Linked DNA regions of Homo sapiens: region 1 is linked to region 2. Evidence: fine-mapped expression QTL. A gene starts in region 2. The other region holds a variant in brackets. All regions are shown on one strand. Distances are from middle to middle.

The links.
Region 1: its variant is fine-mapped to the expression of ST6GALNAC2 in whole blood (TOPMed, PIP above 0.99). The same link has a PIP of 0.9 or more in sun-exposed skin and unexposed skin.

Annotation. Positions count from the first base shown.
Region 1 is chr17:76,561,007-76,569,393 of GRCh38, forward strand. It overlaps ST6GALNAC2 (ST6 N-acetylgalactosaminide alpha-2,6-sialyltransferase 2), which reads right to left. Exons shown (of 9, transcript NM_006456.3): 7 at 7,707-7,790; 8 at 6,447-6,546; 9 at 4,371-5,265. The coding sequence ends at 5,098. LOC122455342 (testis-specific serine/proline-rich protein) reads right to left here. Exons shown (of 1, transcript NM_001395979.2): 1 at 7,791-8,387. The coding sequence ends at 7,791. It overlaps SNHG16 (small nucleolar RNA host gene 16), which reads left to right. Exons shown (of 3, transcript NR_038111.1): 2 at 282-392; 3 at 2,113-4,342. It overlaps SNORD1A (small nucleolar RNA, C/D box 1A), which reads left to right and starts at 627; the gene lies at 627-700. It also overlaps SNORD1B. RefSeq lists enhancers at 5,752-6,252, 6,253-6,753. The variant A/G (reference allele first, on the strand shown) is at 4,125.
Region 2 is chr17:76,582,484-76,590,713 of GRCh38, forward strand. ST6GALNAC2 (ST6 N-acetylgalactosaminide alpha-2,6-sialyltransferase 2) reads right to left here and starts at 3,377. Exons shown (of 9, transcript NM_006456.3): 1 at 3,201-3,377. The coding sequence starts at 3,325. RefSeq lists silencers at 3,134-3,473, 3,524-3,813 and enhancers at 3,682-4,363, 4,364-5,044.

The sequences.
Region 1 (8,387 bases), 21 kb before region 2:
TCCACAAAGAATTTGCGTGAGGGAAGTGAACAATTTGATGAGAAAAAAATAGTTTGCGTGTGCTGTGGCTGTTAGTGCTATGGTCCAGCAGGTTGGTGGGAGCTGAGTCCATGATGATTTCAAGTTATCCCTGTCTGAAGGCAAAGAAAGGCCTTTCTGTGTGGAATTTGAATATCTGAAACTCAGTTTCCCAAGTTTGCCTTACAGAAATTTTAAGTTACTTGAGAGTTACTCTGTGTGTATCTTCTTAAGTAGTTTTTTTTCTTAATTTCTCTTCCCAGGTGCAGTCAGCCTCAGTTTCCAAAGCCGGAAAAGGATCCTCTAGTAGCCACGGTGTGGCAGCTGCTCTGAACCAGGACCTGGACCCGGACCCAAAGTGCCATGTCTTTAATGTGAGTAAGTAGACGAACTGGTAAACAGGCTTGGTTTGGTTTGGGGGAGTGGTAATCTTTTTTGCTTCCCCTGCTCTGGACTTAAAGCAATGGGGGCAGGGAGACTTTAGTAGCATTTTGTTGCTAGGTGTCTGCAATAAGAGACGAAACTGAACTGCTTTGCCGGAAACAAGTGAAATGATTGCTTTCCTGTTTGTAAGATTTGTTTACATCTTTCGTATCCGTAAGAAGTCCCACAAGCCTATGATGGTTAGTTATCCCTGTCTGAAAATCTGGACTGAGGGAAATAATCTATTCTGAGGCTTAAGGGTTTGGCTCCATGGTTTTTTTTTTGTTTTTGTTTTTTTTCCCCTTTTTTTTTCCCTCAGCATATCCTGCTGAGAGCCCAGTCTAGAGCATCATTCCTCTAAAACGTGAAAAGCAAATGAGTGATTGTCCTGCTTTCTCTAGTCCTTTGATTATGGCTCTGAGGATACAGGCTGTATGAGGTGGCAGGAATGCACAAGTACCCAGGATTTGATTTATGCCCTTATTGTGGAATGAAAGTGCTTGTTACATATTTCAAGAAAATGAATGCGCTCTTAGAAACAGATTGGAATGTAGGATGTATGCCAGCTTGTGGCAATGAGAATGCTTAATGACTCTGACCTTGCCTCTGCTCCAGGGTCCTGACATTTAGGGGAAACCACGGCTGTTTGGTTTCTATGTGCTTTGTTAAGGACGCCAGGGAGGTCTCCTAAGTTTGTAGCTTAGATCCTGTCTGAATGTCACGACTGGCATGTGAGCAAGAAAGAAACCAAGTGGTGCTGGAGAGTGGGGTGCCCAGCTTTGTTCCCACTGGAATGCCAGGCTTGAAGTGCACACAGATTGCCTTTCTTTTCTGTTGAAAGGGGAGGTGTGGGCCGGGCGCGGTGGCTCACGCCTGTAATCCCAGCACTTTGGGAGGCCGAGGCGGGTGGATCATGAGGTCAGGAGATCGAGACCATCCTGGCTAACAAGGTGAAACCCCGTCTCTACTAAAAATACAAAAAAATTAGCCGGGCGCGGTGGCGGGCGCCTGTAGTCCCAGCTACTCGGGAGGCTGAGGCAGGAGAATGGCGTGAACCCGGGAAGCGGAGCTTGCAGTGAGCCGAGATTGCGCCACTGCAGTCCGCAGTCCTGCCTGGGTGACAGAGCGAGACTCCGTCTCAAAAAAAAAAAAAAAAAAAAGAAAGGGGAGGTGTGTGCAAACTCTTTGTATTTAAGGTTGTGTTTTTGCTGGACACCAAAGAAGCTGTATTCTGGGTGAGATTTAATGAGCCTAAAAACTGGCCCCAGTAGTTTACAGCCTGCAAGTAAAACAGTGAAAAGGGTAGCTTATCAAGTGGTTATTGTCTGCTGAGTGGACTTGACTACAGAACTCAAGTAAACCATAAGATTTGACTTGAAATGTTTCTATCCAGAGGGAGTGCTTTCTGATAGTTGTTTACTGGCCTCTTACCAGAAACTGCTCCCTCAGAGATACTGTCTCCTTAAAATGAGTCATCCTGGATCTCCACCAGCCTGCACCAAAATGGTGTGATAGTGCCCCGTTACGCTCCCCCAACGCGCACATGCCTGCCGGTGGTGAGAGTGAGTGCTCTTGGACTGACTGCCTGTTCTCCCAAATTAGTTGTTATATAGCATTCAGTTTTGAGTCACTTCCTTGGCTGTTACTTCAAATTATTCTTCTGTTTTATAGGTTAGCTCCCAGCGATGCCAGATGGGATCAGCACAGCCCTGCCTCTGCTGCTAATTGTTCCTCTAAAGTAATCGCCATGCGTTCTTTGGGCTTCATCTTTAAAGGAATGAAGCAACTGAGATTATTCTGGAAAACCTTTTGGCAGTTAGTGAAATTAGAGTACAACTAAGAACATTTTCAGACCTCCACTGTGGATGACCTGGGTATAATCTCACAAATCGATGGGACTGCAAGGATTGTAAACTGAAATGAACATGATTATACTCTGTTGGAAGAGCCTAAGAGGAAACTGATGCCATGAGTTTCAGAGAGTAATGCTTAACCCCAGTTACACAGGATGCCGTCTTGTGTTTCCTCTTGTTTAGTTACCCACTACAGTGATTTTGTGATCTGCTAATGGGTTGCCACCCACAACCATTGCTTTAGCACTTTTACTTCAAATCAATGAAGGATTGATAAAAGTTCTCCTGGTGTCTCCGCAGAGTGCCTTCCAGGAACAGATCTTTGCATAGAATATCAGTGGTTTCCTTTTTTGTTTCAAATAGTGGTCAGAAAATACCCAGTGTTGACTCACCAAGGCAATCAGCTTCCTTTTTCCCTTTTTTTGTTTTTTTTTTAACATTTTATATTTTTGCTTTATTTTATTTTATTTTATTTTATTTTATTTTATTTTATTTTATTTTTTGAGACGGAGTTCCACTCTGTCGCCAGGCTGGAGTGAAGTGGTACAATCTTGGCTCACTGCAACCTCCACCTCCCGGGTTCAAGCAATTCTCCTGGCTCAGCCTCCTGAGTGCTGGGACTACAGGCGCGTACCTTCTTTAGTAGAGACTGGGTTTCACCATGTTGGCCAGGATGGTCTCTATCTCCTGACCTTGTGATCTGCCTGCCTCAGCTTCCCAAAGTGCTGAGATGACAGGTGTGAGCCATCAGACCCAGCATTTTTTTTTTTAATTTAAATTTAAATTTTTTTTCATTTTTTTGAGAGGTTTTTTTTGTTTTGTTTTGTTGTTGTTGTTGTTGTTGTTTTTGAGACAGTCTTGCTCTGTCACCCAGGCTGGGAGTGCAGTGGCATGATCTCTGCAACCTCTACCTCCCAGGTTCAAGCAATTCTTGTGCCTCAGCCTCCCAAGTAACTGGGACTACAGGTGCACGCTACCACACCTGGCTGATTTTTTTTGTTTTAGTAGAGACAGGGTTTCAACCATGTTGCCCAGGTTGGTCTCAAACTCCTGAGCTCAGGCAATCCACCCGCCTTGGCCTCCCAAAGTGCTAGGATTACAGGTGTGAGCCACCACACCCAGCTATTTTTTCTTTCGTTTTTTAATTTTAAAGTTGGGGGGGGGTCTCAATTTGTTACCCTGGCTGGTCTCGAACTCCCGGACTTAAGCGATCCTCTGGCTCCAAGCCCACTACCAGTCTCAGGTTTCTTTACTAAAAGATCACTACCTTTTTTTCTCTTATCTGCTGCCATGTGAGATGTGGCTTTCACCTTCCGCCATGATTGTGAGGCCTTCCCAGCCATGTAGAACTGTAAGTCCAATAAACCTCTTTTGTAAATTAAAAAAAAAAAATCACTATTTAAGATACTAGGATGGATTGTGACTGTTGAGGAGTACTTACATATCCTACATTTGACTACATTATTTCCAAACCAAGTATTCCATCCAAAGGAACATACTGCTATCATAGAGACCAAGGAGGGACTGTTTAAGGTTGCCAAGGTGAAGCGAGCTGAGAGGCTTTGTCCTCGTGCCAGTAACTCTGAAATCTCTCTTAATTCCTGCTGTCCAGGCAGCAGAATGCCATGGTTTCCCCAAGTAGGTAGCTGCTTTAGCAGTTAAAGCCCAAATGTCTGTTCTGTTGATCAGAGGTCTCTGAATTTCTGAAGTGGTGTTTCGTTTCTGGTGACTGAGTTAATCCTTTACAATCCCTCTTGTAAAGTGTGCTAATAGAAAGAATCCACCTTTCAAAGCTGCAGAACCAGACCGTGCCCTAAATTGACCAACGTA[A/G]CTGATGTGCCTCAGGAAGTCTCTTGCCAGCTGTCCCTGTGAAGACCCCCCTCCTCCCCCCCAGCTGCTGCCTTGCACACTGAAGCATCTCAGACTGTGCAAAGCCGTGTAGTCATCAAGACAGTAAATCCCAGGGCTTGGTTAAGTGCTGTGTGATAACTTGTTTGGATGAGACTTAACTTAAAACCACTTACAATAAACTTGGGAAACTACCGTCAGCTGAGTTCAAATTTACTGACGCCATGATATGAGGATGAAGGTTTATTACCTGGTGACATCATCCTGTTGGTGACAAGGTGGTGATACATCTCTAATGGGACTTCCCTCAGTGGCAGGCAGGCTGCCAAGCAACTAACCCCCATCAAGTGCCAGACCCTCCCAGTGTTCTGAGAGTCATCTCCATGCTAAACAGCCTGCGTTTTATATGATTTCTCTACCCAGCCAAAAAAAAAAAAATGGTCCATCATGTACGCAGTTATCTAGTCTTAAGTTATATTCTGGCTTTTTTCTCCCACTTTATTATGGAGCAGAAGTAAGCCTATCATGTTCTTAGAAAGGCTCTTAAGAGGTGTCCTGGAGTCCTTGAATCACTTTAGCATCTGGGGTAGGATGTGCCACCAGGAGGATTTGGGCTGGAGCGTGTGTGTTTGCCTTTGACCTGGACTGCTGTCTGATCTTGCTGAACACTCCACCGACATTTCCTAAAGTTGCTCAGTGCCAATCCAGCAAAGCAGTCCATTTTCCCTTGGCCAAGATTGAGATGTATTGTTTTAGATACAGAAGAGTTCTTGGATGAGCCAAGGACAAGCTGGGGTGTCCTATATTGAACAGACCTCGATGAAAATCTTGAATTCACCCCAGTGCCCTCTGTTGGCAAGGGAAGGTGAAGATTGAAAAGTTAAAAAAGCTTTTGGCCACTTGAGAGGATCAGGGCCGCAACTCTTGAAGAAGCAAAGGGCTCAGTGCATTGGGGTCAGCGCTGGTACAGCTGAAGGATGCCGGCCTTGTGCAGGTCCCTCCACAGGGCAGCTTCCAGGGACAGATCGTGGTTTGCATAAAATATCAATGGCTTCATTTTTCGTTCGAAATAGTGGTCGGAAAATTTCCAGTAGTTGCTTGTGATGAATCCATAGGCACTGACCTGGGCAAGGATAGTCGCTGGATTAGTATTTGTTGAGCGTCTAGTGTGTACAGACACTTGGGTGAAGTGACATGAGTTTAGAAAGGTGTCCGTCTGCTGAGGTGAGGATAATGGTCTAGGGCTTATTCCCACTTAGCAAGTGGGGAGATGGATTCAGGGGTGACTCACTGTGTCCCCACTTGGCATAGCTGGTGATTGCCAGAGCTGGATTTGGAACTCAAGGGTGGAGGCAAAAGCCCATTACTACTCTCTCCATCCTAACTGGGGACTGCAGTCAAGACACTCCTGCATCAGAATAGGAAAAGGCCCTGTGTGGTGGCTCACGCCTGTAATCCCAACACTGGGAAGCTGAGGTGGGAGGATCACTTGAGCTTGGAAGTTTGAGACCAGCCTGGGCAACATGGTAAGACCCTGTCTCTACAAAAAGTAAAAAAAAAAAAAAAGAGCTGGGCGTGGCAGTACATGCCTGTGATCCCAGCTACCCAGCTACTTGGGAAGCTGAGGCAGGAGGATCATCACACCACTGCACTTAAGCCTGGGTGACAGAGTTGAGACCCTGTCTCAAAAAAGAGGGAAAAGATTTAGGTGTGAGTCGTGGAGAGGCATTTGGCCCCCAGCTCTCCATACCAGCTTTAGCATGGGTCACGGCCTCTCCTTGAAAGCTGCTGCTTGGCCCCTGCCTCCATGAGCTTCACGTGGGTCATATCCCATCAGGAATGACTCTTAACGGTGATTTCAAAGTAGTTGCATGTGGGAGGCTAAACCTGCTGCCCTACCCCAGCTCTAGGATGTCCCCATAAAAGAATGTCCCTATTTGGCCCAGTATGTTGAGGACTTTGGCTTTCACAAGGGCAGTTTGATGATTTGAGCCTTAAATACCATACTGAGTGGCTGCCTTGGAGAAGAGTGAAAGAAGGAAGCCTGGGGCAGGTGTCAGGAGCCAAGGCAAGCCTGAGGCAGGTGTCCGGAGCCAAGGCAAGGCTGGCCCAGGACCTGTCCTTCAAAGGCCCCAGGGTTGTGGGCAAGGAAGTGAGCAGTACCAGCAGCACTCTTGGAACTGGGGATTCCACGAACAGAGGCCAAGAGTCCCAGCTCCGAGGTAAGGGATATCAGGGGATCCTGTTGGGTTCTGTTATCCTGTGTTCTGCCGGCATGGGCTTCTGGAAGAGAAGGCCTCTTACCTGGTCACAGGTATGCAAAGCTGTCAGCAGCATGAGAGCCCCGGTACTAGGCATATATAGGTCTCCAAAATGTGTGTTAATCAACTTTGATTTCAAGAACCTGGAAGCAAAAAGAGACATTTCAGCTCACTAGCTTGATGGCTATCATCACACTTCACAACTACACATTCAAATAGGTGGGAAAACTTCAAAAACTGAGGGCCTTCTACTCCAGTCAGTTCTTTATTCGGTCCAAGTGGACTAAATACAAAGATCTTTGAGACCTTAGGTAAGGTTGGGGGAGGGGGTGGTGAGAAAGGAACCACAGGTTCCCCCTTTTGGCAACAGCTTGTTTTCACCCCAAGCTACTAAGTAACCACACTGCCAAGGGCATAGGTGGCCTGTTTATTTAGCCTGAGACTGCAGTTTCTCTCTACTCCACATCTTGATTAAGTAGGAATCACGTGTGAGGGACAGGGAGCTCAGACCCTGTGACCGGACCCACACAGTCCAAGAGTGAGGCCAGGGTGTGACCACGGGCTCTGCCCTCAGGCCTGAGTTCACATCGAGCTGTGCCAGGCCGATCACCTGACCTCTCAGAGCCTGTCTTCCTCTGTAGCACGGGACTAATTAGAGGGGCTTCATTTGCCTCCCCACATCCACACACCCCTCTCCAACTGCTCCCTGCCCTGGGATTCGAGCCTCTGGTCCACAGCAGGGTTTCTCAGTCTCAGTGCTGTTGACACTTGGGGCCAGGTGCTTCTTGTGATGTTCAGCAGCATCCCTGGCCTCTACCCACTGATGGCACTTGCCGCCACCACCCTTGTGACAACCCCAGACGAGGACCATATGCACATCCACATTGAGAACCCCTGGCAGGAGGGAGGGAAGGGGGTTGAGGCTGGTCCCCGGGTTCCTTCCGGCACCTTGTGTTGGCTGTGTTTGGGCCTGAAGGTTCTGATGCCCTGCTGCTGACGGCGCCACTGCTGCTGTGCACCTTATGGTCCCAGCTCCCAGTCTGTGCCTTTGTATAAACCTCCTTGAGTTATCCTGAGTTTCCTGTCCATTTCCTGGTGACTGACATATATCACCCTCCCTCTATCAAGGTGCTAAATAAAACAGTAAATGAAGTGACAGTGCTTTGCACACAGCACTCGGGACAGTGGAGCTCTGGTTATCGGTCAGTGCGTGGGGCTCGTGCGAGGGCGCTGACTGGATGTGGGTGGGTGTGTAAAAGGGGGAAGGAAGGGGACGCTGTTCTTCAGGCACCCCACTCCGTACCTTTCTGTCAGGTAGCTGATGAAGTCCGGATGTAGCAGCTTGAATTTACTGGCAGAGGCTTCTGGTCCAAAATAGGCGTGCGGCCTAGGACCCATGATAGAAGTGGACAGAGCGCCCAGAGCCGTCGTATTGCAAGGGGGAGATGGAGGGGAGGGTCAGGGCGCCGGAGTAGCCGCGGTACCCTGAGCGGTAGGAGCGGGGCTGGGAGTAGTAGCGGGAGAAGGGGGTGTAGAAGGTGGCAGGCAGTACGTTGGGGACCACGTGCGGCTTCCCGCTCACCAGGACCTCCACGGGCGGGGTGTAGGAGAGAGAGGAGGGGGGCATGAACAGACCGGGGGGAGTTGGGAAGGGGCAGTTAAACTGGGGGTGGTGGGGGGGCGGGGGAAGGAGAGGTAAGTAGAGTGAGTCAGGAGGGGGTGGGGGCTTCCGGGCAGGGCAGGGAGAGGGACAGGCAAAGCATGGGTTTTGGGGAAGTGGTGCTGTGGGGGGCTGGAAAAAGGGGGGCTCCTTCAGAAAGCGGGGCACATAGGGGGTGATATAGGACGGGATGTTCTGAATTGGCCCGATATAGGAAGATGAGGTGGCAGGGCTGTAGAAGGAGGACTTGGGGGGCACAGCGGGGGTTAGGGAAGGGTTTCGAGAGAGGGATTTGAAACCAGACTGGGAGGGAGATTTGGAGGT
Region 2 (8,230 bases):
CTTAGCCCTAAAATGTTCTCTTTTTAAAAACATAACGTTGACAATGGATAGTAACTGGCAGCCCTATGTTGATTCTCACTCTCCTATTAAACAACAACAACAACTTTTAATAGAAATGCCCATGTGGGGACCCACTGATCCAGATTCTGCCATGAGGAAATGCCCAGACTGGGCTCCACTCTAATCTGCACTAAAGAGCCCTCTCCTTGGGCTCTGTAGACCCTGTCCCAGATGCCCATCTTCCTGGACTGTCCCCTGTAGCCAGGCATGTCCATTTGCAGTCCCAAGCTGGGGAAGCTCATGTGGCCTGCCGGCTCTGCCCAGAATGCCGTCCACCTCCCACTCTCTCCCAGACTAAATATCCACCTCCCACAGCAAGGCTGAGTCCTGACCTGCCCCGCATTGGGGTTTAAGCTACAGTGCAAATACAGAGAAACAGCAGGAAAGGGCCAGGTGCTTGAGTCATACTACATTTTGAAAAGAGGAAAGATCTTTTTTTTAAAAAAGCATTGTTGCATTATAATAGAAGTATAGTAAACTTCATACTTAAAGTCTATTAGATACCCTGAAACAATTTTAATTTGTGTTTTTTAAAAAATGTATTACTCGGGGCTGGGCGCGGTGGCTCACGCCTATAATCCCAGCACTTTGGGAGGCCCAGGTGGACGGATCACGAGGTCAGGAGATCGAGACCATCCTGGCTAACACGGTGAAAACCTGTCTGTACTAAAACATACAAAAAATCAGCTGGGCATGGTGGCGGGCACCTGTAGACCCAGCTACTCGGGAGGCTGAGGTAGGAGAATGGCATGAACCCGGGAGACAGAGCTTGCAGTGAGCCGAGATGGGGCCACTGCACTCCAGCCTGGGCGACAGAGGGAGACTCTGTCCCAAAAAAAAAAAGAAGATAATGTATTACTTGGGAGGCTGAGGTGGGAGAATCATTTTAGCTCAGGAGGTGGAGGTTACAGTGAGCCAAGATAGACCCACTGTACTGCAAGCCTGGGTGACAGAGTGAGACTGTCCCCAAAAGATTATTTTTATAAGAAAAGGAATTCATTTCTTACAGTTATGGAGGCTGGGAAGTCCAAGGTCGAGGAACCACATTTGGTGAAGGCCTTTTTTTTTTTTTTTTCTTTTCTGCTCCTTGTGGAGCAGGGCTACCCCATAGGCAGTGGTCCAGGGCAGCCAGAGGGCCTTGGTGTTGGTGGGGCAGGACGTCACATGCAGAGTGGGGCTGAGTTGCTAGATCAGGTCTCTTCCTTTTTGTAAAATTATTTTTAATTGGCACATACTTGCACATATGTATAGGGTACAGTGTGATATTTCTTTTTTTTTTTTTTGAGATGGAGTCTCGCTCTGTCACCAGGCTGGAGTGCAGTGGCGCGATCTTGGCTCACTGCAAGCTCCACCTCCCAGGTTCACGCCATTCTCCTGCCTCAGCCTCCCGAGTAGCTGGGACTACAGGTGCCCGCCACCACGCCCAGCTAATTTTTTGTATTTTTTAGTAGAGACGGGGTTTCACCGTGTTAGCCAGGTGAAAGCCAGGTCAGGAGGATCTCCTGACCTCGTGATCCGCCTGCCTCGGCCTCCCAAAATGCTGAGACTACAGGCGTGAGCCACCGCGCCCGGCCACAGTGTGATATTTCAATACGTGTATGTAATGTGTAATAATCAAACCAGCTAATTAGCATATCCATCACCTCGAACTTTTTTTTTTTTTTCTGGAGACAGGACCTTGCTGTATTGCCCAGGCTGGAGTGCAGTGGCGCGATCACAGCTCACTGCAGCCTCGACCTCCCAGACTCAAGGGATCTTCTTGGTCAGCTCCCGGAATAGATAGATGGAAGCACAGGCATGCACCACCATCCCCGGATAAGTTTTGTATTTTTGGTAGAGACGAGGTTTCGCCATGTTGCCCAGGCTTATATCAAACATGTATTATTTCTTTGCATTGAGATACTTTGTGTTTTAAACATCTTTACATAAAAGTGACAAGGATTCCTTTTCTTTTGAGACAGGGTCTCTCTCTGTCAACCAGGCTGGAATGCAGTAGTGCAATCACAGCTCACAGCCTCGAATTCCTGGCCTCAAGCTATCCTCCCACCTCCGCCTCCCAGAGTGCTGGGACTACAGGCGTTAAGTCACCGTGGCGGGGCAAGCACCCTTTGTTCTAAGAGTGCTGGACTCCTGATCACTGGCAAGCTGTTTCACATTGTTCTGCAACTTTTGGTGTATCCTTTGACAGCATCTGTGGAGACCAGATACTTATTTTGTTTTCATCCCGTTAGCCCCCCAGCAAGGTTGGTAGGGGGTGCGCAGATGGAAAAGCTCCAGGAAGGGAAAGGCTGGGGCTGGAGGCCTCTCCCTGAGGCTGCCGGGCCCTTCCCTCCTCCCAAACCCAGACTTCGCACGGCTTGGTCCGCCTTTCTTAAGCTAAGCGAAATCGTTTTGCGGCTTCTTCAGTCACCGGAACCACCACCTGCTAGAGGCCGGCTCCCAGGTTCTCCTCGTGGGACACCCAGGAAAGTGCCTAGGGAGGAGGAGGGAGTGGAGCGCAGGACGCGGCGCGGGGAGGAGAACGCGGATGGAGCCAGGAGTCACCCCTCTTTCCCTCGGGCGCCCGCCTCTTCGCGGATCGCGCCCGCACTGGGCTTATCCAGACACGGCGAGCGGAAGCCGGGGAGAAGGGAGCGGGCGCGGGGCGGACAGAGACCGCAGCGGGCGGGAAAGGCGACTGGCCGCGGCCCGACGGAGGGTCCCCGCGAAGTTGGAAACCGGAGACTTGGGCCCCTGCCCAAAAAGCAGAATCTGACGTTACCGAGGGAGAGTTCCCGACAAAAAAGGAAGTTTTTATCTGCTTCGGGGACCCAGCCAGATTTCGACAATAGAAAGTGTACTTATCAGGCCGGGGAGGACTTCACCAACAAGGGGCACCGGGGCGGGTCGCCAGTGCACAGGGGCGAGGTCTTCCTTGGACCCAGGCAAAGGCCGCGGGGTCCGGGCAGCGCGAGGTCAAGGCTGGGAGAGGGTTCTGGCGACAAAGGGCCGCGGCCGAGTCCTCGCTGAGAGCTGCCCCAGAGGGGTCCACGCGGAGGTTGGGCTGAGGGCTGCGGGCCGCCGGGGAGCCCTGGGCTGGGGACCCTCCCCGCGCCCTGGTCGCCCCTGCGCCCTCCCGCTCTGCGCTCGGCAGCCCCTACCTGGCTCCGGCCGCTGGCCCCGGGTACCGCTGCACCGCCGAGAAGTACAGGGCAAAGAGGAGCCCCGAGCAGGCAGCCGTGAGCAGGAGCAGCAGCCAGAAGAACGACCCGCGCGGGAGCCCCATACAGCCCCGGCCCGCGAGCGCCCCGTCCGCTGACGTCCCAGGCAGAAGGGAGAGAACCGGGTGGGCCGGGTGGCACTTGCGGAGGCGGCCGTCTTGCCCTGCCCCGCCCTGCCCGCCGGGTGCCTGCGGCGCCTGCCCGCCCGGCAGCTCCCTCTCGGCCCCGGCTGAGTGGCCAGAGGCTGCCGCACCCTCGGGAGCTGGGCGGCGGGTCCCCCGGGGCTGGAGTGTCGTCCCGGCGCCCAGAGCGCGCGCTCCTTTGGCCCTGCCCCCTGCCCGGGGGACTTCGGCAGCGGCCACTCCTGCCACTGCGCTCTCTCCAGAGCCCAGCCCCGGGAGGCCGCCAGTCTCGGGTTGGGCAGGGCGCTTTCCTCGCGCCGTCCGGGGCTAGCTAGGCGCGGGTAGACGCCGCCACCTGCTGCGCTGGCTGCGCTCTGCCCTCTGCGGGCCCGGCACTCGGCCTCTAGACTCTGTGGCGGGTGGGCGGCGGCCGGGAGGAGATGTGCCCGGCTCCCTCCAAAGGACCCTCAGATCTGTCAGTCTGCGGACGCCAGGACAGCTGGGAGGGGGCGGGCAGGGTGGAGGAGCAAAACCCGACAGCTCAGTCTCTGGGCTGGCGGTAGAGGGGGGAAAAGGGGGTGAGGTGGGGAGCTTGCCGTGATGGGTTTCGTGGGGGAGCTAAGGCTGTCAGCGCTTATTTGGTAACCATCCAGGGTGGCCAGTCCCCTCAATCGCATTGAGTTCCTTTCACAGAACGAGGCCAGTCAGAGAGACCACCTGAAATGTTCAGCACAACGGGTTCCCAAACTTATTGGCACCAGGGACTGGTTTCCTGGAAGACAATTTTTCCACGGAGGGGGGTGGGGGTGGGGGGGTTGGGGATGAAACTGTTCCACCTCAGATCATCAGGCATGAGTTAAGATGCTCTCATAAGGAGCCCGCAACCTAGATCCCTGGCATGCGCATTTCACAAAAGGGTTCGCACTCCTTTGAGACTCTAATGCCGAGGCTGATCTGAAGGAGGCGGAGCTCAGGCGGTAATGCTCCTTCCCCCTCCACTCACCTCCTGCTGCGATGCCCTGTTCCTAACAGGTCTCGGACCAGGCTTGGGATTGGGGACCCCTGGTCTAGCAGGCTCCAGCATCAGAAAGGGCTGGGAAGCTCAGCACCCGTGCTCTCTAAGTGGAACACTCCCTGGCAGTGAGTGATGGATGAGATGGGTGTGCTTCAGTGGCCACTGTTCGGCAAGCTGTGACATGCGGCAGGCTGTGACATGCCCCAGACTCCCAACTGTCAGCAGGCTGCAAGGATGAGAGGGACCTAGGCTACCGTGTCACGGGCCTTTGGCTCTAATCTGTTCTTCATGTATCCGAGGAAGTCTGGGTGCAGCAACAGGTACCTGTCTGATTGCAAGGCTTCCCGAAAACCTCCCAGGGCCTGGGCCTGTGGTCAGGAATGGCCATTCAGTCCATCCAGTCTCAGTACTCCTACCAAGTCAGGGTCACTGGAGGTCACTCACATTGGGCCAGTTCTTTCCTTCACCCCAAGACTGCTCAGCAGAGCCAGACTCATCTTGCTACCCCGCAGATGGGCACTACTTGGAATTTATGGTGTCACGACTTTCATTTCAATCTTTATGGGTTTACTTGTCAAAATTCCTGTAGATGTTACTTATCCCCTGATCACTGGCTTCTCACATTTCCTCAGACCTTCTCTCTGTGCCCATAAATATCCCTCCTAGCCCTTGCTCTCAGTAAGTGCCTTACCCTCTACTTCATGGAGAAAAGGAGAATCATTCATTAGTAATTTATTCAACTTCCACTTACAAACCTACAAACTTGGCCCCCACACACAGCCCAGCCTCTCCCTGCCGGGACTCTAGTCTTTTTTTTTTTTTTTTTTTTTGAAACAGCCTGTTACCCAGGCTGGAGTGCAGAGGCGTGATCTCGGCTCACTGCAACTTCCACCTCCCAGGTTCAAGCGATTCTCCTGCCTCAGCCTCCCCAGTAGCTGGGATTACAGGAGTGCACCCCCATGCCCAGCTTTTTTTTTTTGTATTTTTAGTAGGGATGGGGGCTTTACCACGTTGGCCAGGCTGGTCTCAAACTCCTGACCTCAGGTGATCTGCCCACCTTGGCCTCCCAAACTGCTGGGATTACATGTGCGAGCCACTGCGCCAGGCCTCAGGACTCCAGTCTTAAGAGCTGGGGAGAGGGTGCTCTCCTCCTGTGTGGGAGTTAACCCCCTATCTGTGTTAATAATCCAGGTCCACCTCCAATGCCTTAAATGGCAGTACTCCCCTCACACCAAGATCTCCTATCCACCCACCTGGAGTTCTCCTTCCTCCCATCTTCAGCCTCACAGGACCTCCAGGGTCTCCATCCTTCCCTTTTCTCCCAGTGGGCCAACCCTCTCTCAGCAGCTTTCTTTCCTATCTAGGCAGGACTCCCTGGGTTATAATCTGAGCTACTCCTGCATCAGTAACCCAGATTCTCTTGTGTTCCTGGCTTTCTTCCCAGCAAAACTCTGACCTGGATTCACTCTTGCCTCTGCCTCTCCTGTGCTGCCTGTCCCTGGCCTGGCTGAGTGCTGCAGGGGTCAGGGGTCAGGTGTAGCTCATTCCAGAGTGTGAATTGGGAACACAAGTTTGGCCTCAGCTGGCTCTCAACATCAGCCATTTCCTTATCCTTGCTCAGCTCCAGCTTCTATCCTGCTCAACAATGATTCTAGAACTTACTTCTTTCCTCAAGCCTCCTCTTTTCCCAGCCATACCTGTGAGAAAATGCAGCCCATCAGGAGTGACCTTCAACTTCCCATGCCCCCAAGTTCAAAGTCATCTTTTGTTAAGAACTGTGCAGATTTTGCTCTCCTTACAAGCTAACCAATGAAACTGCCATAGTTCTGTGGATGCTGGTAGAAGACACAAGACTACTGGATCAGAGACAAAGGACTTTATTACTCATGGTGCAGCAAGCAACATAGGCATCATGTTTGTGTCACTTCTCTTTACTCCTCAAGCCCCATGAGAGTGATACAGAGAGGCCCAGGTGAGTGTTGCACACACAATGGGTTTGCAGCACAGCTGAGAATCCCTGAGATAAGGAAACCAGAATCTTTTATAATGGGCTGCAAGCAAACCTGCTCTTGTCCAAGAGGGAGACATTATCTTTATTACGTTGGATAGTGAGGAAATCTGCCCTCTGCTCCAGAGGGAGGCACTATCTTTATCTTCCAAGGCAGTCTGCTGTACCAACAATCTTTTTTTTTTTTTTTCTTTTTTAGACAGAGTCTCGCTCTGTCGCCAGGCTGGGGTGCAGTGGCACGATCTCGGCTCACTGCAAGCTCCACCTCCCGGGTTCACGCCATTCTCCTGCCTCAGCCTCCCAAGTAGCTGGGACTACAGGCGCCCGCCACCACATCTGGCTAATTTTTTGTATTTTTAGTAGAGATGGGGTTTCACCATGTTACCCAGGATGAACTCGATCTCCTGACCTCGTGATCCGCCCGCCTCGGCCTCCCAAAGTGCTGGGATTACAGGCGTGAGCCACTGCACCTGGCCTATACCAACGTTCTTGAAAAGAGCCTGGAACAAAAGGTCAGTTGGTCCCTCTGCTCACAGCATGATCCTGCCCATGCACCCTCACCTTATTGCTCCAGACTCTCCTCCTTCCAGGGAGAGCCAGCCTCTTCACTGTGACCTCCCATTCTTCAGCTCTTGCTTCAGCAGCCCTCCCTGCCCCCTCTGCAAGGTCCTTATCACAGCCTATGAACATGCCCCAAATAGCTCATCCTAAAAAGCAAAGCAAAGCAAAACAAACAAAAAACGCCATGGAGCTGGCCCCCTTCATAGCTACTCTCTTTTTCTTTCATCCAAGTTCTTGGTAGAGAGTCTATTCTGTCTCTGCTTCTTTTTGCATCTGACTTCCTTACCTACGATGCCATTGAAATTGTACCCACTGAAGTCACTAGCAACCATCATCCTTCCAAAGGGAGTCCACATTTTCCAGTTCTAATTCTGCTGCATCTGTCTCTCTGAATTTGACACTTAGCTCCCAGTAATTCCAGCCTGCAACTCTTTGTTCTCATGGTTTCAACAACCAGCTTTCTGTTTGTGACTCCTGAATTAGTCTCCATCTGAGGCCCAGATCTCTATCAGCTGCAAACCTGTTCAGCTGTGTATAAAGGCATCCCTGGAGACCTGCGTTACTTTTTTCTTTCTTTCTTACTGTTTTTTTTTCTTTCTTACTGTTTTTTTTTTTTTTTTTTTTTTGAGTCAGAGTCTCACTCTTGTTGTTCAGACTGTAGTACAGTGGTGAAATCATGGCTCCTGCAGTCTTTTTCTTTTTTTTTGAGACGGAGTCTCACTCTGTTGTCCAAGCTGGAGTGCAGTGGCATGATCTTGGCTCACTGCAACCTCCACCTCCTGAGTTCAAGCTGCCTTGATTCTCCTGCCTCAGCCTCCCAAGTAGCTAGGACCACAGGCGTGTGCTACCATGCCCAGCTAAGTTTTTGTATTTTTAGTAGAGATGGGATTTCACCATGTTAGCCAGGATGGTCTTGATCTCCTGACCTCATGATTTGCCCGCCTCAGCCTCCCAAAGTGCTGGGATTACAGGCGTGAGCCACCGTGCCCAGCTGGCTCCTGCAGTCTTAAACTCCTGGGCTCAAGCGATCCTCCTGCCTTAGCCTCCCAAGTAGCCAGGTCTATAGGCATGTGCCACTATACCCATCTAATTTATTTTTGTTTTAATTTTTGCAGAGACAGGGTCTTGCAGACACAGAGGGCCTACTTCTCATGGGTTTTTCAGGGCTAACTATGGGACTTGAGTATGTGTGGATTTGGTTTGGTTATACGGGCAGTCCTGGAACCAATCCCCCATGGATAATAAGGGATGACTGTATGTAAAT